4 separate regions of the Homo sapiens genome follow, and regions 1, 2 and 4 are each linked to region 3. Evidence: fine-mapped expression QTL. A gene starts in region 3. Each other region holds a variant in brackets. All regions are shown on one strand. Distances are between the middles of the regions.

Region 1 (7,563 bases), 310 kb before region 3:
CCTGCATTTGGGATGGGGAGGAGGAGAGAGCTCAAAGGTGACTCACGGGGTTTTATTTTGTCTCACTCCCTGTCTTGGCTCCCCACGTCTCGTGGCGAACGAGCTTCTCTTTTCCTTCATGTGTGTCAAATCCTCCTTCTTCCTAAAATTAGCTCCAGCTCTACACTACAGGAGGCTTTGTGTCGTTTTCCTTTATATAAGAAAGGTTTTGAAAAAATTCTTGCTTTCCACCAAGGCATGTTTCTAAAACTATTTTTTTATTTGTGTAAAACAACATCCTTATTTTATTTAAATACATATGGGAGAAGAAAGAGAGATGTGAGGGGAAAGAAAGTGAAGGGGAAAAGGAGAAGTAGGAAGAAGAAGGGGAAGAGGAGAAGGAAGGAGAAAGGAGGAGAAGGAGGAAAGGGAAGAGGATGACGAGGAAAAAAGGAAGAGGAGGAGGAAAGACATACTGGAAGGGAGGGAAAGCAGACATTCCCTGGTGGCCCAGGACAGCAGCCAGGATGTATAAGCTCCAAGCCAGGAATGGGCCCTTTCACACTGGGCTCTATATTCTCATACATAATTTAAATCCGTTACAACAACGACGTATTGGTATTTGAATAATAAAAATCTATGGCCGGGCATGGTGGCTCACGCCTGTAATCCCAGCACTTTGGGAGGCCGAGGCAGGCAGATCACCTGAGATCAGGAGTTTGAGACCAGCCTGGGCAACATGGGGAAACCCCATCTCTTACTAAAAATATAAAAAATTAGCCAGGTGTGGGGGCAGGTGCCTGTAGTCCCAGCTACTTGGGAGACTGAGGCATGAGAATTGCTTGAACCCGGGAGGCGGAGGTTGTGGTGAGCCGAGATCATGCCACTGCACTCCAGTCTGAGCGACAGAGCAAGACTCTGTCTGAAATTTAAAAAACAAAAACCAAAAAACTAAAGAAACAGTGGGAGTCAAAAATAAAATATATTGTCACTAAATTCAGCTTTAAAGGAGGGAGAGATAAAGTCTTCTGAGGAGGAGGAGGGCCTGGCAGTGAAAGATGGGTCAGCAATGGTCCCTGAGCAGGCAGCATGGTGTCAGGTGTCAGGCATGGGACAGGAAGTTGGAAGACCCAAGTTCTACTCCAAAAGTCTCCCAGGCCGGAGAAACCTGGATCAACCCTTTAACAGTCTCTGCTTTGGGTGAGGAAATGCTCCTACGTAAAGTGGGAATAAAAATGCCACTTCCAGCAGGGCATGGTGTTGTGTACCTATAGTCCCAGCACTTTGGGAGGCTGATGCGGGAGGATCACTTGAGCTCAGGAGTTTGAAACCAGCCTGGGCAACAGAGCAAGACCATGTCTTAAAAAAAAAAAAAAAAAAAACCACTTTCATGCCTCAGATCATTGTATTGTGATGAGGATCACACGAGAGGACAAAAATAAAAATTGTGGAAGTCTTTTGAGAAGGATTTTGCACTTTACGCACATGAGCTTTTATGATAAATTGCTCGGGAGGTTGCCAAGAATTCATACAAAGAAACATGAACATCTTTCTAAGAAACTGGAAAATCCCAATGATAGTTCTTCATGTAATAGGGGTAGGACTGTTCCTCAGACTGGATGGAACCACCTAGACACGTCAGTGGCCTTCGGATAAGTCTTGAATCAATGTGATCTTTAGTCATTCTGACTCAGCGGACTTGACTTGGTACTTGACACACATGATGGAAAATAATTAGAGGGGACTTACCCATGGTCTAATGGGGAAAAGGAAGCTAAAATGATAATTTGAAGCTGGAAAACATTGATTGGCTTCCTCTCCCTTTCCAAAGCCTCCTCCCCAGAGCTCACTTCTTGGAGGACTGGATGGCAGGTGGAGATGGTGAACGGGGTCCTGGCCTACCTGGCAGAGCACTTAAATGGTCAGGGAGCATCAGCCCCCTTTGCTGGAGTCAGTCGAGTGTCCTTCAGCTCTGAGCGCTGCTGTGGGTTTTGAGCAGCCACGTGGCTCTCAGACGAGACATCTATTGACAACCTCAAAGGGCTCCTGCACTGATCAATAACAGCATGCCTCCCCTGCCTTCAGCTAAAAGCTAAAGAGACGGGCTGGTGCATATATGATCACTAGAATTTAATTATATATCACATTGATTTTTAATTAGAACTGTAGTGAGGACCTCCTCTATTAAAAAAAAATTCCAACTGGCAAATGGGTTTTACTCAATTTATCAAATAACTTGAAATGCACTGCTCCTTCTCACTTTTAAGCCTCTTGATGAGAAGGAAACCTGCTACGCAACCCCTGTCACGAGGGTGAAGACCTTGAAACCTGCTAGCATGTCTCGAACATTTTTATTCAAGTTCTGTGTTTTGGCATGTAAGCCAGACACCCAGAGGAGCAATGACAAGAGGCTTCCGTGTTATTTATAACTAAGTCCAATTAACACTGGAAAAGGTCCCATTGGCTCTGATCCTGTCTAATCTCTTTGAGAAGTAGGTCCAGTGACACAGCCTGGCTCTACAATCAGATCTAGCACCACACAGCTTGCCTCATCTGACCCCTGTTTTCCTGCAGAGCTAGGATGCCTCAAAGCTCTCCATGCACTTTCGCTTGGTTTTTCAAGGCTGCAAGGCAAGAGCTTTGCAAGCTGGAGGTAGACTACAGATCCAGAGCCACAACTTCATCCTTAGTAAAGGCCCTATCGGTGCTCACATTTGCAGAGAGTGCCTGAGAAACATGGGCGTTGTCCTCCAGAATCACCAGGTTTCTCTTCAAAGTTGCTCTGGGACCTAATGGAGTCACACAAGCTGGCTAGTTGCTCACTGTGCAAGGAAGAAGAGGCTCAGATGTCAGCACCAGTCAATACTGCTGACCAAGGCACATCCAGTCACACAGCGTAGCCAGGATTCCCTCCAGTGAGGAGCCTAATGGATGTGATCTATAGTCACAATAATATTAGTGTTACCTACATCCCAGGCACTGCACAAAACTCTTTGCACAGTTTGTCTTCTTTATCCGTAGTTCAGAACTGTGAGATGGATCTTCATTTTGCAAATAAGAAAACTATGACTTAGGCCGGGCGCAGTGGCTCACGCCTGTAATCCCAGCACTTTAGGAGGCCAAGGCAGGTGGATCACCTGAGGTTGAGAGTTTCAGACCAGCCTGACCAACACGGTGAAACTCTGTCTCTACTAAAAATACAAAATTAGCAGGGCGTGGTGGCGCATGCCTGTAATCCCAGCTACTCAGAAGGCTGAGGCAGGAGAATTGCTTGAACCCGGGAGGCAGAGGTTGCGGTGAGCCGAGATGGCGCCATTGCACTCCAGCCTGGGTGGCAAGAGAGAAACTCCATCTCAAAGAAAAGAAAAGAAAAAAAAGAAAAGAAAAGAAAACCATGACTTAGAGGGTGTGAGCAGTCTGCCCAAGCTCACACAGGTGGCAGCGCTAGGACTCAAGCTGCAAGGCTCTTGCTCTTATCCCCTCTTCTGTACCACCTCCTGCATCAATGGGTGTGTTCTGCCAGGCACGGCCCGCCACCTCCTCACA[C/T]CTGCCAAGAACAGCCACGGGAACATGGCCAGCAGTGGTGAGAACAGAGCAGCCATTTCCTCACTTCCTCTCTGCTCACCCATCCCCCGAGCCCAGTCCGGTTCACTGCCCCACTTTCCTCATGGTGACTCATACTATACTGACATGAGAAAAATTGCCCTGCCTCCAAGCATTTTCTTGAGCTAGCTCTCTGCCCAAAATTTCCTTCTCTCTCCTCTCCACTAATTCATTCAACTCAGCCCATATTTATTGAGCTTCTACTGCATGCCAGGCGCCATGCTACATGCTGGGAATCTCGGACTAAAACATGATAAGCCATTGTCCTCACCCTAGCCAGGTAAACAGACTACTAGAAACAACGAGAGAAGCCTTATGACGACATAAGCAAAGGTAGATACTAAATAATATGGGAGAGATGGGCATGGATGGTTTCCTAAAAGACACCCATCCTTCTGAGCCCAGCCCAAATCCCATCTCTTGCTGTTATCATCTGTTTTTCTTCACTTCTCGTTCACCTCTCCTGGCCTTCCCCATGCTATGTTGCATCTCCTTTCGCATCCATCTGTCTTACTTAGCATCACAGGCAGACTAGTTCCAGACAAAAGAAACATTTCATAATTCTAAATCCTTCCAAGTACACAGAGTATTGCTTCATATGCAGGAGACTGAAAGAAGACTTTAAGTATAATTAACACACCCTCTCCAGACCAAATCTTAGTCTCGGAAATCCCAGTACAGATCATCACATACTGTAATCCCTCCATTCTGGCCTGGACAACTACTAACCTGTGTCCATCATTCTTTGGAATGAGCTCCTCTGCAGAGAAACCATGAACACATCCACTTCCCTGGAATCTGAGTACCAGAGAAACAACAGGTGTTACGGAGGCCAAATCCTGGCTTCCCAAGAGGGCCACGTGCTAATCCCTGGAATCTGTGAATGCATCTTAAAAGGCAAAGTCTGTAGATGTGATAAAGTCGACATCATAAAACGGAGAGATTATTCCAGATTATCTGGGTGGGCCCTACATGCAATAAAAAGTGTTCTAAGGGCTGGGTGCAGTGGCTCACGCCTGTAATCCCAGCACTTTGGAAGGCCGAGGCAGGCAGATCACCTGAGGTCAGGAGTTCGAGACCAGCCTGACCAACATGGGGAAACCCCATCTCTACTAAAAATACAAAATTAGCCAGGCTTGGTAGTGCATGCCTATAGTCCCAGCTACTTCAGAGGCTGAATCAGGAGAATCGCTTGAACCCGGGAGGCAGAGGTTGCAGTGAGCCAGGATCCCATCATTGCACTCCAGCATGGGCAACAAGAGCAAAACTCCTCCCCCCCCCCCCAAAAAAAAAGTGTTCTAAGAAGGAGGCAGAGGGAGATTTCCGACAGAAGAGGACAAGGAGGTGCGACCATGGAGACAGAGATTGGAGTAATGCGTTCACATGCCAAGGAATTCCAGCAGCCTTGCCAACTTTGATTTTGGCCAACAAGGACAGATTTTGGACTTCTGACCTCCTAAGCTACAAGAGAATAAACTTGGGTTGTTCTAAGCCACCAGGTGTGTGGTGGTGTGTTACAGCGGTCGTAGAAAACAATGCAATTGCTTTCAAGTGTCGTGAAAGACAGCAGCAGGTACATGAGCTCATGCTGGAAGATCCCAGGTGGCTTCCCCTCCTGCACTCGGGGAAGAAGGGAGCCTCTTCTTAGACTGGAGATTTGCCCTTCATGTGCTCCAAGGGACAGATTGTGGCTTTTTTTATGGGAAATGGCAAGGCTTTGGGTTGTGGGTCACTCTTTTCTTTCCTCCTCCTCCTCCTTCTTCTTCTTCTTTGTGAAATGGGGTCTTGTTAAGTTGCCCAGCCTGGTCTTGAACTCCTGGGTTCCCATGATCCTCTCATCTCAGCCTTCCAAGTAGGTGGGACTACAGGTGTGCACTACCATGCCCAATTTCTTCCTTACCTTCTTCCCCATATTTCCAGAAGTCTTTGATATAACAGAGTTTCTGAATTTTTTCACTGTATTTAAAGATAGTTCACCTAGTCAGAAAAAAATAAGCGTAAATCCTCTACCCAGAACTAAAGGAAATCAAAGCTCACTGAATGGAACCAAGCAAGAAAATGTGTTGAAAAACATGACCCACAACTTTTTCAATGTATACTTTGTGCTTCATCTCTTCATGCCCCTTTCTCCTGTCATGGATGTTGTCTGAGAAGGAGCTCTACAGTTTAGTGCTAAGACTTATTTGTGTACGGTCCAGTTGCTATAGGCTAATGCAGTAGAAGGAGTTGGAAAGAAGACAATATTGATGAAAATTCAGCAGGGTCTACGCAATTCTGTGCAAGTAGGATTTAAGGATTTTTACACCCTTAAAACAAAGGTAGTCTTAGTGCAATTTCTCCTGAAGTGGGTTCCTTCATTCCTTAGCCAGAGGTGATCTGATGCTCACTCTCGTGTTGTTGAAGAAACACTTAAAACATATGAGCCAAAAAATGCAATAGAATATATTCCTCCTATCGGGAGCATGGGAACTCTGTAATGGAGTGCTCTGCCAAGATCTTAATGAGACAAAAAAACCCTTAAGTGTTATAAAAATAAGAAATAAGAGGGCAGTGAATTTAGTTAATCCCATTGATTTCCTAATTCTTTGCCCTTATTCCCAAAGTATACATTTAGAAATGAGATGTAATTCTGGGAGTGATTTTCAACAGCCTCATAAAGGTGGGTAACTTGCACATTCTCTCTCCAGGTCTACCACCTACCACTGTAAAATATGGACAGAAGTGCATGTGGCTCTAGGGGAAACTTCCCAGGCACATATTTAATAAATGCAGTATTATGCTGTTGCGGGGGTGAGGGGTGGATAGAGCAACTGGAATGGGAGGTGTGGGGTAAAACTCTAAAGCTTCCATGCTTGGTTCCTTATCGCTGTCCTAGGCAATGAGTTAGCCAAGGGGAACTAGATGTGGTATCCTTAGTTATTCGATGGCATGGCAGCATAAAGCCACCATCAGTTTGCACCAACCCAATGTTTTTGAAAATATTAAAAATGCACACTTAGAATGTTCAAATCTGGTGTTATAGTAAAGTGGAGAGCGATTCCATTCAGATGAAAGTTACCCTAAAATTCATTGCAGGAGCTTCTGATGTGCACTATGTTATCAAGGCAGCAGGAGACGACACCAGTGTTCTTTTGTAACCCTCTTGCCTACAAGAAATATTAACTTTGTGTGTGTCTACTTTTCATGTTAAGCACCTTTCAATTTAGTCCATTTTCAGATACTACAAATAGCATTGTCATTGTCATCTTTGTGCATAGGAGCTGCTCTCCTGACTTTTCCTCTGCTTGTAGAGTATTTGAAACCAGATTTCAATGTCTAGCCCTTTCTCTGACTTCTGGTATCCCTCTTAGAAGTCATTTCTTTTCGGAGTACTTCTACTTTCTTATATGAGTTTAAAGGAACTGAAACTTCTTGCTCCCCTGGTCAAAGAAATTGCACAGATATCTAGAGTTATATACAGAAAACACCTAAATCGTCTCAAAAGATTAAGTACATCTCAAGGCATTTTTCCTTTTTCACTCAAGGTTCATAAATGTGAAGCTGGTTTTCATTTTACCAACTTTCGTCTACAATTAAGATGAAAAAAGGAAAATATCAACATCCCATAGGAAATGCTGAATTCCTGGATGTTGATCCTAAATATTCCCAGACAAGAATCTAGAAGAAAAGCAGTATATGAGTAGATCTTCACAGTCGAAACTCAGGCGATCTGGAGAGGTCCAGATAAAAACAGGCAGTATCAAGTCAATATCAAAAAAGCTGCAAAATCTTGAAGATTTCACAGTGACTAATGATTTAGGCAATTGTCAATATCAGCGGAATCTATTTGTCTCTAGAATAGGCCTAATTTTCATTCTTTTAAAAGAACTACTCTACTCCTCATTTATTCTCCACATTGATATACAGTAAACAAAATTTAGATATTACCCACATTGATGTTAGCCCTCTGTTTGTGGGTTTTCTCCTTGTTTTCAAATGTCT
Region 2 (7,563 bases), 480 kb before region 3:
CTTTCTTACAGATGTTCCTGTCATAGATGACATTCCATCTCTCACTGTGTTTGCCTGGCTCCCCTGAGGGCTGGGAGGGCTGGACAGAGAACTGGGGATTTCCAGATTTGGAAGGAAACTCTGAGGTCATCCTGTCCAGGATGTTTCTTACTTGGGAACTTCTTCCTTGGGCTTTCTCACACCCAGCTACTCTTCTGTCTGTGTGTTTTAGTGTCCATGTATCATCTTCACCGTGTCTGGCTGCAGGTAACCTGGTGATTCCCACCCTACAGTGGGCTCAACTTTTTTTTCTCCCTCTGAATTTTGAACATAAAATCAAAACAACATCTAGAAAACTTTCTATGTGCCCAAGCAGCTGTGTCTGGTTTGGCCCACACTTTGGGCTGGGACTTGGTCAGTGCCATCTTTTTATCCAAAGCGGTTCTATTCATCTGAATTCAGTATCCCTGGTCTTATTTGATGATGAAGTGACTAAGTGCTTAACTTGGGTTTGGAGTTTTATTTATTGTTTTTTGTTGTTGTTGCTGTGATTTGAACTATGTCCATTTATTTTGGTTTTCTTTTGTTTTTCACTTGGTAGCCTACTGCGGCAATAAAAGTTTAAAGGAAGCTCAGCTCCTAGTTATAGCAAAACACTCTTTAATAATGACTTTTTGCATAATTAAAAACAGGACCTGTAAATTTCTGAATAATTCGTCATTTTATTGGCCAAATGGAACTGTACTATGGTTAATGCAGGAGAATCACTTGAACCCAGGAGGCAGAGATTGCAGTGAGCCAAGATCTTGCCACTGCACTCCAGCCGGGGCAATAGAGTGAGACTCTGTCTCAATTAAAAAAAAAAAAAAAAAAAAGAAAGAAAAGAAAAGCATTTACTAAGAACTGGGATTACCTGGCAGCAGTAATACAGCTACTATCACATATGAAATACCTATTATGTGTCAGGCCCTACAATAGGTGTTTTATTTGCATTATCCCATTTAAACTTCATAACACCCCTAACTAACAGTCCAAATGATTACCTCAATTCACCAACACAAAAGCTGGAAGCATCCCAAGATGACAGAGCTAGTGAGTGTGTCTGCAATGCCAGGGCTGTCAACCCCAGAGCCTTTCTCTGAGGCCAGGCTGCCTCCTGTCTTAGGGACAAATTTTTATCCTCCTTCTTCTCTCCTCCTCTACACAAAACACTCCTTAATCCAGCAAGATTCCTCTCCCATCCTGGTTACTCGGAATCCAGCTTAATACCTGCCCAAGGCAGATCAATGGCACTTTAGCTACCATCCTCATCTCTGAGCTTCTTCTCCTCCTCTTTTATCACCTCTGCTATACACTCTGCCCCCACAACAGGTGTATTCAAGTAAATGCTGTTGTAGGAGTTATTAAGAAATTATTTTAGGCAGATAGACAGGAAAAAGGGGTCCTTGGGAAGTTTTCATTCTTAAAGCAGCTCTTAAAGCCAGGTCAGCAACCTTTGCTATTCAAATGCCAGCCATTAGAAACTGGGTCCATCCAAACATGGCGATTCCCGGCCTTCTTGACTTTGATCCACATGTTCCTGGCAACATGGCCGCCCCCACATATCCCCACGTGTGTAGAACATCATGGCGCCTGCATTTGCGTACTAAATGGCTAGGGTGGGAGGGCCAGCTTTTTCAAGGGCTATGTGAATGTCATGCCTGATCAAACCAATCCCCTAAGCCCTATGCAAATCAGACACTGCCTCCTCCAGCCTCTGCATATACCTGGCTGGTATCCACCACACTTGGGATTCCCTCTCTCAGCTTTGGAAACCTCCTCCCTCTGTCTCTGTACAGGGGACCTCTTCTTTCTTTCTTTCCCCTTCTTTCTTGCCAATTAAACTCTCCGCTTCTTAAAACCACTCCAGTGTGTCCGCGTCGTTTTATCTAATTTGACTCCAGACGAAGAACCTGGTGTTCCTCCACTCTTCAGAGCTGTATCAACATGCGCCTGGCAGAGAAGGGGGAGGGTGGAGGGCTAGTTCCATGATGTGAGGGTATGGGATGCAAGCGTTCCACCACTAGTGTCTACCTGGGTAGACAAAGGCTGTGGAGAACAGAAATCAGAACAATGATGTCTCTGGGATGGGATGGGGGAGCTGGGAAGGACAGGTGGAAACTCTTGGGGTGGAAATGTCCTAGATCTTCTTTGGAGTATTGGTAATTTGGATACATTTGTCAAAACTATAGAACTCTACACTTAAAATCTATCTATTTTATGCATAAAACTATATATCAATAAAATATTTATTTATTTATTTGTGTATTTATTTATATATTTTTAGAGATGAGGTCTTGCTCTGTTGCCCAGGCTGAAGTGCAGTGTTGTGATCCTAGGTCACTGTGGCCTCAAACTCCTGGGCTCAAGAGGTCCCCTTGCCTCAGCCTCCCAAATATCTAGAATGACAGGCATATGCCACTACATCCAGCTAATTTTTTAAAAAATTATTTTAGAAATGTGGGTCTGGCTATGTTGCCCAGGCTGGTCTTGAACTCCTGGCCTCAAGTGATTCTCCCACTTTAGCCTCCAAAGCATTGAGATTAGAGGCATGAGCCACTGATTACAGCCCAAAATATTATACACACACACACACACACACACACACACACACATATATATATTTTTTTGAGATGGAGTCTCGCTCTGTCACCAGGCTGGAGTGCAGTGGCATGATCTTGGCTCACTGCAACCTCTGCCTCCCAGGTTCAAGCAATTCTCTTGCCTCAGCCTCTTGAGTAGCTGGGACTACAGGCATGCACCACCAAGCCCAGCTAATTTTTGTACTTTTAGTAGAGACGGGGTTTCACCTTGTTGGCCAGGAAGGTCTTGATCTCTTGACCTCATGACCCACCCTCCTTGCCCTCCCAAAGTGCTGGGATTACAGGCATGAGCCACTGCACCAGGCCTAAAATATATATTTTAAAAGAATGCAGGTGCTATGGCACCCAGATGGCTACCTTTCAAATGGCATGGCTTTTGCCTTTGACAGCCTGCTCCCATCCTCACACAGCCCCCTCACTCCAGTTATACTCTTGAGCCAGTTTGGTGACCCCTGATTCTCATCAAAAGAGCTTTACAAGCTTTTGGGGGAGCGGGATTCAAGGACACCAGGCCAAGAAAGAGCCATGTCCAAGAGCACCCAAGTTCCTGAAAGGAGAAGTGGGCACTGTACAGAGGCATGAATGGGGCACCTACAGTGGACAACCTTAGCAAAAGGTTCTCTGGTCCCTGTTATGACTCAAGAGGGACAGGCCAGCTCTACTTGTGCTCTTCCAGAAACCAGAAGAAGTGAGGGCAAGGGCTGTGGATCAGAGGACTTCCCACTCATCTGGCCACTGGACTCTGCCCTGAGGAGGTGAAGTCTCCATCATTCCCCTCTCCTTCCCTTCTGTGAAATGCTGGTTCTCTAACCTCAGAGGCCTCACGCCTTTGGAAGGAGTAAGTGACCAGTATTGTGAGGCTCCAGATAAAGCCATCGCCTGACTCTTGGCAAGAGTGACTCTGAGGAAGCTGGTGCTTCAGTTGCTGAACAACCCATCGGTGTCTCTGTACCACGGTGGGGTCAACCCTACCCCGGAGCAGTGGAAATCCCAGAAACACCCTTTACTCGGCCCTCCTCTCTCCTACCCCTCTGCCCACCATCTCCCAACTGGTTTGCCTTTGATCTCAACATAAAAAACTCAGGCTCATTTTAAACCTGTTGATACTCTAATGACAAGAATCGAGACAACAGTAATTAATGATGAACATTAAATGGCCCAGCCCAGCTGCCCAGCAGAAACCACAAGGATAGTCATAGTGAGTCACCAGCTCTGGCAACAGGAGTGTGC[T/G]GCAGGCTGTCTGGGATGTGGCTTTGTTATGCCCAAGGTCTTTTCTTCCTAGCACAACACCTCAGTGAGGGCCACTTTAACAGAACTGTGAAGCCTTCTACCTGCCTCCAGTTTCCCCTTTAAACAATTTCCAAGGACTCCACCAAGCTCTTGCTCCTATTTCAGGGGCCTGGGTGAGACACAGGCGTCTTCCCCCTTTTCCTCTCCAATTTCGAAAACAAACTCTGATATCAGACATTTACACCTTAGTGAGAATCGAAAAAAGAAAAATAACAACTAAGTCTAATGTGTGATAACTGAGGCAGGAGAATAGGGCCCGGAGGCAGGGAACATAAGGCCCATCCACACCTTTAGTTCCTAGAACTAAATCAAATGAAAGCACTTCAGCAATGACAGGAATGTGAATGGCTTTGTAACTTCATTTCCTCCTCTCCAGTCCCGCCATTTACACTTTGTAACTTCACATTCATCCTCTCCATTTACATAGACCACACACTCCAAGTAACAGCCTCTCCATTTACAATAGGGCAGATTCTGAGTAAATGACTCTGTGACTTCACTTCTTTCTTTTCATTTACATAGAATATTCACCAAGCAGCCAGGTTGGTGATTACACCAGTAATCCCAGCACTTTGGGAGGCCGAGGCAGGCAGATCACCTGAGGTCAGGAGTTCAAGACCAGCCTGGCCAAACTGGTGAAACCCCATCTCTACTAAAAATACAAAAATTAGCCAGGCATGGTGGCACCTGCTTGTAGTCCCAGCTACTCTGGAGGCTGAGACACAAGAATCGCTTGAACGTGGGACGTAGAGGTTGCAGTGAGCTGAGATCGCGCCACTGCACTCCAGCCAGGGAGGCAGAACGAGACTCTGTCTCAAAAAAAAAAAAAGAAATTCACCAAGTAACTAAACAGAAACCTCTAGAGTATTGAAACTCAGAAAATTCTGTAACTGGGCTCTTGAGCCCCTACGCTTGGGCCCGCTCCCACACACTGTGGAGTGTACTTTCCTTCTCAATAAATCCCTACTCTTGCTTTCCTTGCTTTGTTTGTGCGTTTTGTCCAAATCAATTCTTTGTTTAAGATGCCAAGAACCTGGACACCTTCTACTGGGAACAATAGCCACCCAACCAAGTTCTAGGTACCCAGGAGTGAATTAAAGCAATCACTCCCCATGTCAGCATCGAGGAGAAAGGCATGACATTGCAAAGCCACTTCTAAGTGTCTTGCTGGGTAATAGCTGCACAATTCATGTTCTGAAAAATAGAAAGCATCAATTTCACTGACACACTAGGCTGGGTATGGTTGATTTCTGTCTTTAGCTGTACTACTGAACCAATGTGCTTTTAATAGGAAGGCTGCACCCTTTTCTTTTTTTTCTTTTTTTTTTTTTTTTTTTTTTTGCACAATAACTTGCTTTTCTGTGCCCTGTGTACTACTCTCCTAGGGGCTCTGTGAGCTTTTATGTTTACACTGGAAAGAAATATTGAAAGCAAAGAGTTTCTTTCTGTCTTTTTTAAAATAACCAAGTACAGCACTATTCCCAATGGTCCCAATCTAAGTTGCTTTCAGTCACCAGGAAAGAGATTAAGCAGTCCCTACCAACTTTGCAGCGCTTTACTCTGAAGCATGAACCAAGCCAAGGTCAAGCTCACAGGCGGCATCTTTCATTACTGTGGGGGCAAAGCTCCAGTCAGACCCATCAGAGTGGAGGCTTCTGGTCTCCAGCAAGTCATTATGTACTTAGGATTATCATTAATTTTCTCTCCCTGAAGTGCTTCTGATGAATGTGAGAGCTAAAGCCGACTATGCATTCGCTAATAAAAGGTTCTATGTTCAATTTTCTAAAAGTGCCCTTAGAGAATCCCCAATTTCCTGCCTCTTCTAAGAAGAAGCTGAGTTTGTGCTGCCTTCATAAAGGGAGAACTGAATCATCTTGGTGTAAAAGCTTCCTGAAGGTTGGAAGGAGAGGCCCCTGGGACATTCAGGAGACTTGGAACCTTCTGGGGCCTGGCAGTGTAGATAGAGCGGTTATTATTTATTGCAGACTTAAGAACTGTACACCGATGTCTATGTGGCTCCTGTTTCTCCATCCCATTTTCCATTTGCAAGGCTTCAGTCTCCTTCCTGGGAATCTTAAACAAGCTCCTACAAGTCCTGTTGAGCCCAGCGCATAAAGCCCATTTAGCTCTCTATGATGGGGTCCACACTGCCCAGGGGGGTCACCTGACTCAATGCGTTCTTTTGGCTATATCCTCAGTTGTCACATTTGATTGAGGACATCAGCTGTCTTAGATATGGTAGGGATGGATCTGTGCATTAAAGCAGGCAGCTGGGATGCCTTTTGCTCACCAGGAAGGAAGGACATGCAGGCTCTGAGTAGGAGCAGCTTTGAGTAGACGGTGCATGTGTTCACACTCAGAGCCCTGTAGCCTGGTCTTTTATTGAGACATAGAGACTGTGAAGCATTTTTTTGCTAAGCTTTAAAGTTTTAATTAGCTTATTATCATGAGCTGGAATGGGCTGTAGACGTGTTCAGGGCATTGAAACAATGCCTTCTGTGTGGGGCCCTTTTGGAAGAGAGCTCTGGGGCTTAAGGCACAATGGCTTCCTGTGTCCCAGGGCCCTGGTATGTCCTGTTCTTCCACCATTGCCTGGGCCACTCCCAGGCAGCATCCAGGGTGTTGTTGTGGGGTTTCAGCCACTGCTATGAACATTAGTGCAATGCATTTCCTCCTCATGGCACTAATGAAGGCCAGGCTACATAGGCCGGCATTGTCCAACATCTGCCTAGATGCCTAGCTTATGGCTGCAAACAGCAGCACAGATGACCAACAGATGCAAGCTCTGCAAAGAGCTCTGTAGCTAAACAATGAAGTCCCTGAATCTCCATACATGCTGATAGAGTTCAAATTAATCTATCACACTGTGGATCTGGCAGATTCTTGTCTTTGTTTCTGTTTCATCATCCAAGTGAATACAGTAATTACACTTGGGTGCCAGAGTGTAACAGCTAGTTCTCAGCCCAATAGTCTTGGCATGAAGAACCAAAGTAGGCTCTTTAGGTAAATTGCATGGTAAGGGGAAGGCCTCTGCTCCTGACAGGAGACTTCCATACATTCCTGGGTGCTGTACTGAGTGAGAGTTGCTAAGTAGCTAACATGGGCAGTCTGACTTCGGGAAGAAGTGAGGAGTTTCTTTAGGAGAGCTGGAAGTTCAATAGCTACACATTCTGGACTGGATGAAGCCAAGACAGGCCCTATTCAGCCTCTGACACAAATGCACTCCCAGATCTTTTAAGGCACTCTCTGATCTTGAAGTTGAGGTTTCCAACTCTAAATTTGCAAACAGTTTTCTGGTGATTTGTTGGATTTTTGAAAGAATTTCAAGGATGTGGGAATCAAGACAGAGGACCAGTGAGACTTGACCCAGCTACCCCCTAATTTCAACCAGGCCATCTCCAACCTGAACTCTCTTATAGATTGTGGCTGAGTGGGATTTATTTTAAATAAAGGATTTTACTGCTTAAAAAGCACTACCATGTTATAGCTTGAAACCTTCTGGATTAAACAATCTCAAAGGCCATGCCCCATTCTAACAGTCTAAGATTTTAGAGAGTTCTGTAGTTGTAATACTCACAGGTGTCGACTGGGCACGGTGGCTCATGCCTGTAATACTAGCACTTTGGGAGTCTGAGGTGGGTGGATCACCTGA
Region 3 (7,563 bases):
AATAATCTGGGTCTTCAAGTTCTCACTAATACAATATCCACCTAGTGGACCCTGGTCGCTGTCACATGCCACAGCGAGTAAACTAAACTAATGCACACGCCTCTTCCAGTTTCCCGTCTGAAGATCCGAAACCTCCACTCTGAAATTAAACACCGGGATCTGCTGTTTTACAAACCTCTTCCCACCCTTACCTTTATTCTTCCCCCTCTCTCTGAACGCCCCAGTAAGGTGTCTCATTTAATTATCTGTCCAAATTCCAGACCACGGTATTGTATGCTCAGTTTTCACCGGACGCTGCTAATGCTTCGGTTCTAAGGAAAACCAGCCCGCTAAACACAGATCTTTGGCAACCCTTAACAGTCCAAAGCTAGGGGTCTTGCTCCTAAATCTGCACTGGTTGGGCCCAAGTTCCTTCTCTGCTTCAAGTAAGAACCTTGCTTTGCAGAACCACTTCTCTGCTCTTTCTCCTCCTCCCTCCAAGCTCACTTTATTTTCCACATAAAGCTCACCAGTCTTCTGGGGTGATGACTACATATCCCTAGTTTGACAAATTCCATATATAGATTTAAAGTATAAATAAAACAGATTAAAAGCCCATTTTGACCCTATTAGCTTCAGACCTTGTACAGAAAAGGAAGACTGAATACAAGTAAAATGCTGCTTAAATGTTTATGAGAGCCTATTTTCAATGACCTAAAAACAGCCTAATAAAATTTTGACAGGTAACTGGGAAAGTTCTAACTACCTTTTTTTTTTAATTGGAGCCACATTTTAAGCAAGGAGAATGGACTTTTGTACCACTGTATTAAAACTATATTTCTGTCGTTCATAAAGTTTCTTCCTGTGGCATGCAAAAGGCCAGAAAGGGGACTGGTATTTTGAAACTGTGGAACAATGCCCTTCTGTTTCTGTCCCCTTCTCGTTACTGTATGTAGTGATTAAACAAAAATGTCTGCTTTAGTCAAGATGGCTACAGGAGAGACTGCTGGCTTCTTTTAAAGCTTTTGAAGTCCGCAGCCGTCAGAAATCTCTGATCCCCTAATTATATCATTATCAGGCACATAGTTTCGGTATCTGTGACTTCATGTCAGCCTCAGTCCCTCCCTGTTCTGCCCGCCTTTGATAGGGCCAGGAGGCTCCCCTCTGCAAGCCACAAGGGCTGTTATTTAGGGTTAATTACACCCTTCCTTCCAAAATAAATAAATACTGTAGCACATCATCCTCGCTGGGCTAGCTTATGCTTTAACCTCATGCCTGCTACATAGCAATTAAAGAGAAGTAGGGGGCTGCAAAGACTAAACTGCTTCCTACTTAAAAAAATTATCTGTTCACAGAACAGTAGGTAGATTTCACAGCAGGGAGGTGAGGAGAACCTTGAAATTCGGAGACAGTTCGGGTTATTTCTTTCTAAAAGGTGAAAGCCTGCAGAGGAAAGAAGAAACTGACCCGCTGCCTTTTTTTTTTTTTTGGTCCTGTTTGTAAAATATGAGGTGAGTGGCAGTGAGACGCTGACAGAGCCTACTCCTCCCGGCTGCTGAAAAGCAACACAACACACACTTCTGCACACCTCGGACACCTAAACTCTCAGGGAGACCCACACACTCGCTCGCACACAGAGAGATGTACGCAGAGACACACTCACACAGAGACTCAGATGCACATTCAGAGATACAAAGACACTTAGAGACAGACACAGAAATGCATTCAGAAAGACACACTCAAGATCAGAGATACAGAGACTCACACATTCAGAGACACAAAGACTCAGAAAGAGACACAGAAATGCATTCAGAGATACATTCAAAGAGACACAGAGATACGCTGAGTGATACAGAGGTTCAGACACACTTTCAGAAACACAACGACACTCAGAGACACAAAAATGCATTTAGGGATACTGAGACTCAGAGACACACTCACAGAAATACACCCTGAGGCACTCACACAGACACGCTGAGGGCACGCGGCAGCTACAGGCCAGGATCTGCGATTCCTCCCGGCCGCCCGAGCCCCCAGGGTGCGGAAGCGGCGGCGTCGAGGCCGAGACTCCGGCCCCGCTCCCCGCTGGGCTGCAAACGCGCCGCTCCCCGCAGGCAGAGCCAGGAGGACCCTCTGATCAGCGCCTGCCCTTAGATCGGAGTCCGCATCCACGCGCCAGGCCACCGCCGCGACTTCTAAGAACACAGCAACTTGTCGCGACCTGCGGCTCCGGCGCAGGAGGGAGCCTCGCCTGCCGCTAACAAAGCCTCTGCAGCCGGCTCCAAAGCCCCGCGGCGAGGACGGGACCCCGGGCCCCGTGCGCCCCCGGCACCCACCTTTGGTGAGCAGCACGGCCATGGCGCAGAGCTCCAGCTGCAGCCAGATGAAGATGTAGCTGGAGTGGCGATCCATTGACGCCCCGCACGGCCGCGGCGCCCCCGCCGGCTTCCGGAGCCCCGGCTCGGCGGCAGCCTACGACCCCCGGAGCGCGCAGGGCATGGGCCCTGCCCGGAGCGGCGGGCGCCGTCAGCGGCGGGGCTGGGTTTCGGGCCGCTGCCGGAGCATGGAGCGCGGCTACAGGGCGCGCCCAGGAGCCCAGAAAAGTTTCCCGGTCCCCCGTCGGCGGCCACTGGCTCCCTTGCCCCGCTCGACTCTAGGGACGCACGCTAGCCCCGGGTCGGGAGTGGGCTCCCGGCCTTCAGTCCCCGCTAGCGGCCGTTCTCAGCGAAGAGAGTAGGGTCTCCACAGCACGCAAGGGTATCCGCCGCAGCTCCCGCCCGCGCCAGCCCAGGTCTCTCCGGCTCCGCGCCGTAAATAGCGCCCCGCGCCGGGAGCCGGCCTGCACCGCCCCGCCTCGCCCCGCCCCACGGCGTCCGATTGGCCGCCGGGCTCCTGTCAATCCGCCCCGCAGCGGGGGGCGGGCCCAGACGCGAGCGCTGGGGGACCTGCCCGGCGGCTCCGAGCGGCGCCGGCGTCTGGGGCGCCCGGCTGGGGCGCCCGGCTGGTGCGCTGCCGTCTCCCGCGCTCCCCCTTGCGGAGGCCTGCGCGTCAGTGACCTTCGCGAGGCGCCGGGGGAGCCCAGCCCCGGGACCGGCTCGGGAACCCGCCTCCGAGACCCTGACGGCTCAGCCTCGGGTGGTCAGCGTTCCCCAGCGCGGGGCTTCTTTTGGGTGCCCCCCGAAACACGCAGGGGGTCCGTGTGGTCGTCCTCCCCGGCCGCACTGCGTTTTCTGGAACCCCCAGGGGCGAGTGACAATGCCCCGGCCTGTGCAGGTGGCGGAGGAGGGTTCGGGTGGGAGCCCGGGGGAGGCGGCCCAGCGCTGGGGTCTGCATTCAGCCTTCGCCCCCCACCCCCTCAGCGTGTCCGCCTCGAGCTGCCCGCCATGGGATCAATAAAGCCCAGACAGACTGACTGTTGATCCGTTAGGAGCCGCTAGGTTCTCCCGGGTACGCGGGACGAGTAGCGGGCTAGAGACACTTAACGAAAATTAGCAAATCCAAAAGCACCCGGCGCCAACGAGACGACACTGGCCGAGACTGACACTCAATTAACCACCCCCCAAACAATGGCTGGCAAACACGCCGGCTGACCCTGATCAATATCAGCCCCGCAGTGATCTCCTCCTTGAGATGCTAATTCATTTATTAGGGATCGCGGGGCTGCCCTTCCCAAGGTACTCAAGGTGGTCTTGCTGTAGTTTTGTTTCCCCCTCCGCTTTGGAAGGAATTAAGGTTAAAACTCATTATCTGAGGGAATGTTCTTTTATCCTCTCCCTCCAAAACCTGAGATGAACAAAAGTCGACCATTTGCAAAATTCTTCTTGAGAATCTGCCAGAGCTTCCCTACCGGATATGTCAAAAGGGGGTGGGGGGTGGGGAAGGAAAGAAAGAGAAGCACATTTCATGCTAAGGTGAGAATTATAAAGACAAATCCTTTAGGACTAGAGTGCAGACATGAGCTTTGAGACTAAGAAAAATGTACATATGTCTTGAGGACTGAAAGTCAAGGCGAACATATCTCAAACGCCTAACCTTTTAAAGTTGTTGAAAGTCTGCAGAGCTGCAGGATGTAGTTAATGAAATTGTCTTTGAAAAATAATGTTTATGTGCAGAAAAATAAAATAATTTCATAAACTGATGCTCAGACCATTACTTCTCTAGATCAAAATTGCATCTAAAAGGAGAGAAGGAGAAATCCAGTAGAAGTTTTAAAAGAAAATTAAACTGGTTAGGGCACCAGGTAAACAGCAGGTTTCTCAGAAAAGTTTCTCAAGGGGCGTGCTGACAAGGCAGTCCTGGGGCCGAGTTTGATTAGAACTTCCTGGCTACTAGAACCTTGACAAGTTAACAATTGTAAGGGTTTTATGCAGACAAGACTTTTTTTTTTTTTTTTTTTTTTTTTGAGACGAGTCTGGCACTGTCGCCCAGGCTGGAGTACAGTGGCGCGATCTCGGCTCACTGCAACCTTCCGCCTCCCGGGTTCAAGCCATTCTCCTGCCTCAGCCTCCTGAGTAGCTGGGATTACAGGCACCTGTCTCCACGCCTGGCTAATTTCTGTATTTTTATAGAGACGAGGTTTCGCCATGTTGGTCAGGCTGCTCTCGAACTTCCGACCTCGTGATCCGCCCGCCTCGGCCTCCCAAAGTGCTGGGATTTACAGGCGTGAGCCACCGCGCCCAGAGGACAATACTTTTTATGTAATGATTACACTCTCTTTTAGAGTCAATTATTAGCTAAAAGGAAACTTTCAGGGTATGTTAGTTCAACCTGGCCTCCCACCGTAGGCGAGGCTTGCAATGTCTGGGGGTATAAAGATGTCAGAAACTAGATAGTAAATCTCAAAACAATGGAGCTGGACAATAATGGAGATTTATGTGCATGATGTTACAATGCCTAAAAGAAAGAGGTTAACTAGTCTAGGAAGGTAAAGAGAGCCGGTAAAGTCTAGAAGCAATGACATTAAGGATTGGAAGAAGACCATTACAAGCACAGAGGACCACAGGACTTAGGCATGAAATATGATTGTGTAGGTGAGTAGGAGTGGTAAGCAGCGAACAGGTAGTTGGGATGACAAGCAAGTCTTTGTGATTGCAGCATAAAATGTGAAGAAGTGAACAGAGACGTATCAGAAATGAACTATACTTCCCTTTGATACAGATAAATATTTAATGGAAGAGGTCTGGGGAATGTGTTGGTGAAAGTTGCATTCTAGTAGACACTTTCTGAGTGTCTCCCAGCCCAAGTCAGAGAATGTCCCTTTTCCCGGAGTGGGCGTTGGCAACCTGATTAGGAGACTCTGATCTCCTAATCTCTGGCCATAGCTAGTCACATGACCCAGGTTAGGTCAGTTAGATTCTCTCTTCTGTGTCTTTGAGCAGACATGCTGCTCAGTCCCTTGAGGTCATTTCACGGGAGACATAAAAATTTTGCTTTGGGGCAGCTGTAGTCCACCTGTCTGCAGAGGAAGAAAAATAATGAAGATATGCAAAGTGGCAAATACATAAATCCAAATGGATTTCCAGGCACTCAGCGTCACTTCTTGTCCTTAGGTTAATTCAGTAACCTTAATAAAGTCCCCTTTTTACTTAAGGTTCTTTTCCTTGCAACCCAAAGAAACCAAACTAAGATATTTGTATTTTATTGAATTAATGTTGACTTTGAGCACTCCAGGTTGTATATATTTTTTTGTTCCAAGTCCAATTCTGAATAAGAACTTGGGATCCATTTTTTAGACAATGATTTCAACTATTTTGTTTTTATTATTAATGGGCAAACTTTCTAAATGACCAGAAATTAAAGAGAAACAAGTCCGCACTTTATCTAATGGTTCTGGGGAAGACATGGACTTTTCAACTAAATGAATCAGAGTGTTTGAATCAATGTAGAATATCAAAATCAGTTTAGGGATAATGTGTCAATCATAAGGCCATATCAATAGTTGAGAGAATAGGCAACAATTTTAATTCAATTTAACATTCTTAAGGAAAATTGCTTCTCTAGAGAATTTTACTTATGCTTTGCACATAATTCAGTTATTACTTTCCTACATGTAGGTTGATAAGTAGAGGGAAAAAAAATAGTACAATCTACTGTCCTTTTGAAGTTTAAAGCAAGAAATGAAATCAACGACCAAAATTCTTTTTACATCTACAAAGGGATTCCGAAAATACCTAGGAACAAGCTCTCTATACCCAAGAACAGAAAACTGATTCTAGACCTAACTGAAACCGTTAAACAGTAGAATAGTTTTTTATTACCTTCAAACAGCATTCAAGATATAATTTATCCATGGGAGATATATATGTATATATATAGGCGCGAGCCACCATGCCCGACTAATTTTTTAATTTTTTTGTAGAGATGGTGGTCTCCCTATGTTACTGAGGCTGGTCTCAGAATTCCTGGGCTCAAGCAATCCTCCTGCCTGAGCCTCCAAAAGTGCTGGGATTATAGGTGTGAGCCACCATGCTGGCCGTATAGATGTTTTAAAGATTTTAAATGATGTCTTTGAAATTATAGGCTAAACATGTAACTAAATGGCACTAAATTGTGAATGGGAGAGTAGAGAGTTACTTGCTTTTTTTTGCTTTTTTAGAGACGAAGGCCTCCCTCTGTTACTCAGGCTGGAGTACAGCGCTGCAATCATAGCTCACTGTAGCCTCGAACCACTGGCCCCAGCCTCCCAAGTAGCTAAGGTGCTCCCCACTGCATGGGGCTAATTTCTATACTTTTTGTTGAGACAGAGTCTCCTTATGTTGCCCAGGCTGGTCCCAAACTTCTAGCCTCGAGTGACCCTCCCACCTTAGCCTCCCAAGTAGCTGGGATTACAGGTGTGAGCTTGACTATCTTATCAGAGAGTTATTTGTGTTTAAGGGATTCATAGCAGAATAGGAGCTTATTTGTTAGGTGACCAGATAGAACAAAGGAAGATTATACAATCTGAGAAAAGCGCATCAGAAGTTCTTCCCTTAATACCAAGGATAAGAACAAGAATTCTGTTCATTGATGACCTCACTTAGGGTGTACTCTCTTCATAACCTGTGTCCATAAATCTCGTTAAAATGCATTAAATATTTGAAGATATGCACGTTTGGCTGGCATTTTATTTCATGGCTTGAACTCACACATCAAATATAATGTGTGTCTTGATACTTTGTAAATGATAAAACAAATACTATATAGTTAGTTATTTTCTCAGGAATTATTATGAAATAAAAACAATGACAGTGGCCAGAACATAATAGCAAATAAATAAATAAATAAATAAAAATAAAACATTTATAGTACATCGTTAGTCAACTTGCTTAATTAAAAGGAAGAGAGACACACTAAAGATTAATTTAGGAGGGGTTTGTGGTATGGACAAAATAGGCTTATGGTATGGTTACTACTAACTGGTCATTGACAAGCACCGCTTATCAGCTCGGGGAGCCAACCTTCCTGGAGCCAGAAGCCAGAGACTTGGGCCTCTTTTTCTCAGGGTTGTCTTTGCTTCTCACCTCTTTGCCAGTGGGCTGTCATCCTCTCCTTATTTGTAGTTTTTACTCTCATAATTTCTGCTTTTATTTTTTTTTTGTCCAAGCA
Region 4 (7,563 bases), 64 kb before region 3:
CTAAAGAAAGAAGTACTGTAAGTTGATTTTATACTTACTTCCTGGTGGAGATTGCCTGTCTTTGGAGCCTGGAAGTCTCTGGTTCCCGGTGGATTTTGTTCTTTTCTTTTCTCCTTCATTTACCTGCTGGTGATTTTCCAGGGAATTATAAATGATGCCAGTGTTTGAGAGCCGGGAGAACTGGGCTGGAGGATCTGTCAGGTCCTGACCAGTTCTAAAAGTCCAGATCCAAGCGTACAAACAATTCCTCTTGTAGTTTTCCCACCTCTCACTGTCACTCTGCTTTCTTCCTCCCTTCCCGGTCCCTGCTGCCCTCTGACATCTCCCCTGAAGCAGTCCCTGGAGCCCTGTCTAAGGCATGGGAGAAAGGGGCCGGTCTCACACCTGCTTCTTTGTGTCAGATTTCCCTTCGAGGACTCTGGACTCCGAGGACCTCTAAGAGGGAGGCACAGCTGATAACCACTATGCACTGTGGAAGCCACCTTTGTGGTCCCACAGGAAAATTATGAGGTCACAGAGCTCTGAGGCCCCTTGCCATCCACTGTCCTCACTGCCTGCTAGGTCTCTCCCAGATCCTCAGGCAGCTGCTGACTGCCACCACAACAGACCCCTCACCTCCACTCTGATGGCAAAACTGCCCCCTGCCAATCCCTCTCCACCCCCCTTAAAACCTCACCTATCGCAGCAGCTGACATCAGCCAGTGTGAGGCAAAGATGAGCTGAGCAACAAAGTCATGGCTGGGCACCATGGCTCACACCTGTAATCCCAGCACTTTGGGAGGCTGAGGTGGTAGGATCACTTGAGACCAGGAGTTTGAGACCAGCCTGGACTTGTGAGACCCCCATCTCTATTTTAATTATTTTAAAAAGAAAAAAAAAAGTCAGAAGGCCTGCATCACAGCCAAGTGCCAAACCTCCCCAGAAGGCTTATGCTCTTACCCTCCACAGGTTATTTGAGGTATAATTAACAAATAAGCACGCATGCAGTGGCTCACATCTGTAATCCCAATATTTCGGGGAACCAAGGTGGGAGGATCACTGGAGGTCAAGAGTTTGAGACCAGCCTGAGGAATATAGTGAGACCTCATCTCTACATAAAATACAAAAATTAGCTGGCTCTGGCAATGCACACCTTAGCCATTTAGGAGCCTGGGGAGAAGGATCACTTGAGCCCAGGGACTCAAGGCTGCAGTAAGCTATGATGGCACCACTGCACTTCAGCCTGGGCAACAGAATGGGATCCATGTCTCCAAAAAAACAACAAAAAAAGTATATACTTAAGATACACAACATAATGTTTTGATATATGTATGCATTGTGAAATGATTATCACAATTAAGCTAATTAGCATATCCGTCGCTTCACAGTTACCTTTGTGTAGTGTGGGGGGTGTGTGTGTGTGTGTGTGTGTGTGTGTGTGTGTGTGTGTGTGGTGAGACAACTTAAGATCTAACCTCTTAGCAAATTTCAAACCTAGAATACATTATTATTAATCCTATAGTCACCATGCTGTACCTTAGATCTCCAGAACTTATTCATCTTATAACAGAAAGTTTGTACCCCTTAACCAATAGCTCCTCATTTCCTCTCCCCTCCCGTTGGTCCAACCTCTGGTAACAACCCCCTACTTTCTGTTTCTACGAGTTTGACTTTTTTAGATTCCACATATAAGTGACATCAGCATTTGTCTCTCTGTGCCTGTCTTATTTTACTTCACAAAATGTCCTCCAGGTTCAATGTTGTCACAAATGACAAAATTTCTTTCTTTTAAAGATTAAATAATAGGCCAGGCATGGTGGTTCACGCCTGTAATTCCAGCACTTTGGGAGGCCAAAGCCAGCAGATCATTTGAAGTCAGGAGTTCGAGGCCAGCCTGGCCAACATGGTGAAACCCTGTCTCTACTAAAATTACAAAAATTAGCCAGGCGTGGTGTTGTGCGCCTGTAGTCTCAGCTACTTGGGAGGCGGAGGCAGGAGAATCACTTGAAGCCGGGAGGCAGAGGTTGCGGTGAGCTGAGATCATGCCACTGACTCCAGCTTGGGTGACAGAGTAAGACTCTGTCTCAAAAAATAATAATAGTAATAATAATAATTAATTAAGTAATACTTCATAATGTGTGTGTGTTTATGACATTTTCTTTATCCACTCATCCACTGATGGACACGTAGGTTGTTTTTATCATGGCTATTGTGAATAATGCTGCAATGAACTTGGAAGTGCAAATATCTCTTTGAGATAGTAATTTTCTTTCTTTTGGATATATACTGAGATTTGAGATTGCTGGATCATATGGGAGTTCTATTTTGAGTGTGTTGAGGAACCTCCCTGTACTAATTGACATTCCCATCAAGACTGTGCACGTTTCCCTTTTCCACACATTCTTGCCAATGCTGATCTTTTGTCTTTTTGATGATAGTCACCCTAACATGTGTGAGGTGATAGCTCACTCTGGTTTTGATTTGCATTTTCCTGATGGTTAGTGATATTAATTAAGTACATTTCATGTGCTCGTTGGCCATTTGTATGAATTCTTTGGAGAAATGTTTTTATCATTTTTTAACGGGGTTATTTGTTTTTTGGCTTCTGAATTATATGAGTTCCTTATATATTGTGGCTATTCACCTCCTATCAAATGGATAATTTGCAAATATTTTCTCCCATTCCATACGTTGCCTTTTCACGTCAATGATTATTTCCTTTGTTGTGTAGGAAGCTTCATACCCTTTAAAAGCCCAAAAGAATAACCTAGAACTCAAAAATTCTTCACCCTGGCCACACTTGGGCAGCTTTTTAAAAACTCTGATGCTTAGGCCTGTTCCAGACCAACAGAAGCACAAATCAGGGGCAGAGAGGAGGATGGGGCGGGTATGGGGGTCAGGCCTGGTGTTGTCTAAGCTCCCCAGAGGAGTCCAATTTACAGCCCAGGTGAGAACCCTGACCACTGCCACAAAGAAGCATCTATGACAGGCTCTCTGGGATTCCTGGGGATACAGCCACCTCCACCTATGAAGGATCAACGCTCTTGTTAATGACTCCATAAACCCCTTGCGCCCCCAAACTCTCCTCCACTCTACATCTTGGCACCTCTGCTCTGCCCAGTGGACTAAGGGGCAATATAAGGGTAAGGAGGCTCCAAGCAATATCATTTCAGATAATTTGAGAGGACTCTAAGCCAGAAGATGTTACTTGTTGTTTGTCCTTTACTAGCCACCCACAAACTCCTCCATACCCACCACCCTACACCTCACCTCTCTTGGCTTAGGAGAATCTGGGCCTGCAGTCTTGGTGGTAAAATGATGTTGAAAACCATCTGAGTGGTGACACTAATCAACCGCTC[C/T]GTGTGTCTGCTTGGGTATCAGCAGCATCTTCCCATGTGACACCAGGAAATGCCCATCACCTGAATGGCCCTGTGTTCATCAGTCCTGCTTCGGTGAACCAAAAATGAAAGCCCAGACAACTCTCAGAACTCTTAGAGACACCAAATTATTCAAAGCACCTTACAGGAGAAAGTGGCACCCAGAGCAGTGGCTCACACCTGTAATCCCAGCACTTTGGGAGGCCAAGGTGGGAGGGTCACCTGAGGTCAGGAATTCGAGACCAGCCTGTCCAACATGGTGAAACCTCATCTCTACTAAAAATACAAAAATTAGCCAGGCGTGGTGGCAGGCGCCTGTAGTCCCAGCTACTCAGGAGGCTGAGGCAGGAGAATGGCGTGAACCTGGGAGGTGGAGCTTGCAGTGAGCCGAACTCATGCCACTGCACTCCAGCCTGGACGACAGAGCGAGACTCTGTCAAAAAAAAAAAAAAGGAAAAAGAAAGAAGAAAGAAAGAAAAGAAAGAAAGAAGAGAGAAAGGAAGAAAAAGAAAGAAAGAAAGAAAAAAGAAAGAAAGAAGAAAGAGAGAGAGGAAGGAAGGAAGGAAGGAAGGAAGGAAGGAAGGAAGGAAGGAAGGAAGGAAGGAAGAAAGGAAGGAAGGTTGGTTTTGCAGCCCAACAGCTCTGGCCCCATCAACTGGGACTTTAACCAACAGCTCCTCATTTTCTCTGCAGATTGGGGCCACAGGTCTGACCCCTTGAGATTTTCCTGATCTCTTGATGAGACCCCTGCGTTACATGTGTGTAGAGAAGAAAATGAAAAAGCCAACCAAAATCTGCTCACTCTTTTCCTCTAGACTAGAGCAACCAGATGATGTATAATAGATACCATCTTTCTTGCCTAAAATATAACTCTAAACAGGTGTCTGTGTGTGTGTGTTTGTGTGAGACACAGAGAGAGAGAGAGAGTGTGTGTGTGTGTAGCCATCAGGCATAAACTTATTCAAGCTTGAGTATCTACATCTGTCACTTACCCACATCTGTACATATCCTCCTAGCAGTCAATTCCTGTGACTGATCCTTCTTGGCCATTGTGCAGTGATAAAAGAAAAACTGCAGTCGAATTAAATTTAAAGCAGTTTAATTGAGCAATGAATGATATGTGAATCAGGCAGCCCCCAGAATCACAGCAGATTCACAGAGACTCAAGCACAGCCACGTGGTGAAAGAAGATTTATAGACAAAAAAGAGAGAAATGACGTACAGAAATTGGAAGTGAGGTACAGAGTGGTTGGATTGGTTACAGGCTGGCATTTGACTTATTTGAACACAGTTTGAACACTCAGCAGTGTATGAATGGTTGAAGTATGGCCGCTGGGATTGGCCAAGACTTAGCTATTGTTACAGGTGCATACTGTGAAGTTAGGGTTTCAATTTTGTCTGCCTATTAAGCTAGGTTACAGTTCATCCACAAGGACTCAAATATAGAAGTATGGAGTCCTTCTCAGGCCATATTTAGTTTGCTTTAAAAGCAGGCTTTGACACAGTGACCATTCCCTTTTTGAACCATGCTCTCCCTTGGCCTCCATGATGTTGCTCTTCCCTGGCTCTCCTCTGAGCTCTCGGGCTGTTCCAACTCAGTCCTCTGCCTTCTCTGTCCATGTTGAGGCTCTTCCATGTTCTGCCTTTAACTCTTTTCTATCCACATCTCCCGGGGATTTCACCTATATATCCATAGATCTCTTATCACCTATGCTGTGACATTAAACCATCTCTCTCCTGCCCTTTCCTGAGTACAACATGCCCCCCAAACTCAACGTGCCACAAACTCATGATCTTCCTAGCCATCTAGATCTGCTGCCCCTCTTCTTGTGTCCTCAAGCTCAGTCAAGAACACAAGTGCCATCCATTCACTCTGGAGGAACCTGGGAATCATTCCAGCCTCCTTCATCTTCCCAAAATGCCCCATCCAATCAGGGACCTGATTCTGCCTCTTCTGCATCTCTCGTGTCCCTTTCCCCACTCTACCTCTGCAGTGAAACAGTCTGACTTTACACCTTTGTCCTCTCCCTCTTGAATCATTGCAATTGTCTCTCAACAAGTCTCCTCTAGTCTCAGCAACCACCATCCTTCTCCACATGTCACCAAAGCAACAATTCTAAGGAGCAAACCTTGACCTGCTCTTCCACGGCCTGGGATCCAAGTTTATGTCTGCATCGGGAAGCAATGAGTGGGTAGATATCTGTCATAAGATAGTAGATCTTACTGAATTTGAGTGGGAGGGAAAGTGGTGAATCAGTCCAACCATGAAAATGAAAATTATTCTAGATATTTCAAACAGAGGGCATTTAATACAGGGAAGTGGCTGCAAAAGTGTTGGAAGACCTGGGGGCTCAGAAGACAGTGAGGAAGTCCAAAAAGTTGGCCTGAAGGGGGCAGTGTTCCTGGAGTCCAGGATCTGGCAGAAGCTGGTGGAAGGTGGAACCACCGCAGGGACATCTTCTGGGATCAGGAACCTAGAAGAGACATGATTACTATTGGAGATGCCAGAAAGAGAGGACAAAATGTGCCTTGATCTCTTCCTACCACTTACCCTCCAATCTCATGCCAGTGCCTCCCATTGGCCAAACCCAGCCAGAAGGCAATTATGGAAATTCTGGAAAATGATTTTCCTACAATACAGACCAGAGCAAGGGAAGGGTAGAGAATGAATCTGATAGCAAACAGGCAAATGACTGGCATAAAATTGTAGAACATTTATACATCCACAGGGTTTTTTCAAAGATAGAAAGCTCAGTAGTCAGACCATCTGATTCCACATGTGATCGCTGGAAACCTTCAACTTCTTCGCCAGGCATGGCTTGCTCAAACTTAGCTTTTTAGAAACTCTTCAAATTAGTCAGCTCATGTATTTGTCCCCTAAATACAGAATGAATATTTCTTGGCTCAAATTGTTTCCTTCTGTCTAGAATAATGATCTTGCTCTTTCTACTTATTTAAATCAAACACATCTTTGGACTCTCAGTTTTTTCTTTTGCTTTTGTTTTTTGTTAGGGATGGCATCTTGCTCTGTCACCCATGCTGGAGTTCAGTGGCACAATCATAGCTCACTGCATCCTTGAATTCCTGGATTTAATTGATCCTCCTGCCTCAGCCTTCCTATTAGCTGGGACTACAGATGTGAGCCACCATGCTCGGCTAGAATGCTAGTTTAATTCCAAACTCTTTCACTAGCATTTCCTGACAACTACTATCGGGATAGGGTTGAAAAGTGTTATCAATTCTAGCGAACCATGGTATGGTTGAAAAGTTACAGGATACACAGCTAAAATCTATTCACTATAAGGTAAGGGGTGTCATGGATGAGTGGTGACTATCTAGACCAGTGGTGCCAGTGATGAAAGCATTTACCAAGACAGTTGTAGGTAAAGAAAGGCAGATTTATTAGAGGAAGTAGAAAAATACGTTGCAGGGGAGCAACAGGCAGGCCAGCAAAAAGGAGCTGACTGTCAGGAGACAAAGGCTTGCTGGGGATTTTAAACAATAGTGTTTGTGCTTGTGCTGAAGAGGGCTTTATGCAGTACTGATATTGCCAAGGTTGCAGCGAGCTAACTTGCATTTTTCTATCAGCTGAGGGTCTGGTGATAGCTGAGTGCAGGAAGATTGTAAGTTACTTGTGCAGGAGGGTTATGTGTCTTGGATCATGAAGAAGGGCAGATTTGTAGCTTATCTGCTTCTTTTTGCATTCCTTTGGTCCCACCAGCCCAACTCCTTTTCTCTAATTAGAACTCCACAAGGGGAACTTCTGGTGCTTCCTCCATGAAAAGGATGACCATCAAGACATTAATATAACATCTGGCCTCTCACCGTCTCTTATTCACTCTGTCTAAGAGGAGGTAGAAACACTTTTCTGAGAAGAATATACTGGGCATGAAACCATCATCACAGGGTTAACAAGAATTCCATGGCAGGTTCTGGACAGAAATAAGGTTACAATTAAGCATTCATCAGGCTGCACTTTGCCCACTTCCATGTAACTGAAAGTCACATAGCACCAGATACAGACCTTTTGCATCCCCACTGTTCCTGTAGATAGGATCTCTGATGATAGAATCATAAAGCTTTTGTTTAAGAATTACTTAAGATGCTTTTCAGACCCTGCATTCTAGTGAAACGGCTGACACAAACCAGTTTGAAGACCCCACAGAGGAACCGAGTCCGCATGAAAATAGCTTCTTCATCACCCCAT

What was found. PIP is the estimated chance that this variant, and not a neighbour inherited with it, causes the effect.
Region 1: its variant is fine-mapped to the expression of BAMBI in monocytes after Pam3CSK4 (Quach 2016, PIP 0.95). The same link has a PIP of 0.9 or more in monocytes, monocytes after LPS and monocytes after R848.
Region 2: its variant is fine-mapped to the expression of BAMBI in fibroblasts (GTEx, PIP above 0.99).
Region 4: its variant is fine-mapped to the expression of BAMBI in testis (GTEx, PIP above 0.99).

Annotation. Positions count from the first base shown.
Region 1 is chr10:28,980,609-28,988,171 of GRCh38, reverse strand. No RefSeq gene overlaps it. Among named protein-coding and RNA genes, the nearest start is that of C10orf126, 140 kb to the right of the region's middle. RefSeq lists an enhancer at 1,831-3,030. The variant C/T (reference allele first, on the strand shown) is at 3,526.
Region 2 is chr10:29,156,489-29,164,051 of GRCh38, reverse strand. No RefSeq gene overlaps it. Among named protein-coding and RNA genes, the nearest start is that of LYZL1, 130 kb to the left of the region's middle. RefSeq lists an enhancer at 3,931-4,606. The variant T/G (reference allele first, on the strand shown) is at 3,852.
Region 3 is chr10:28,672,726-28,680,288 of GRCh38, reverse strand. BAMBI (BMP and activin membrane bound inhibitor) reads right to left here and starts at 2,768. Exons shown (of 3, transcript NM_012342.3): 1 at 2,316-2,768. The coding sequence starts at 2,391. RefSeq lists silencers at 1,871-2,015, 2,741-3,300.
Region 4 is chr10:28,736,583-28,744,145 of GRCh38, reverse strand. It overlaps LINC01517 (long intergenic non-protein coding RNA 1517), which reads right to left and starts at 496. Exons shown (of 4, transcript NR_120652.1): 1 at 385-496; 2 at 39-123. The variant C/T (reference allele first, on the strand shown) is at 3,339.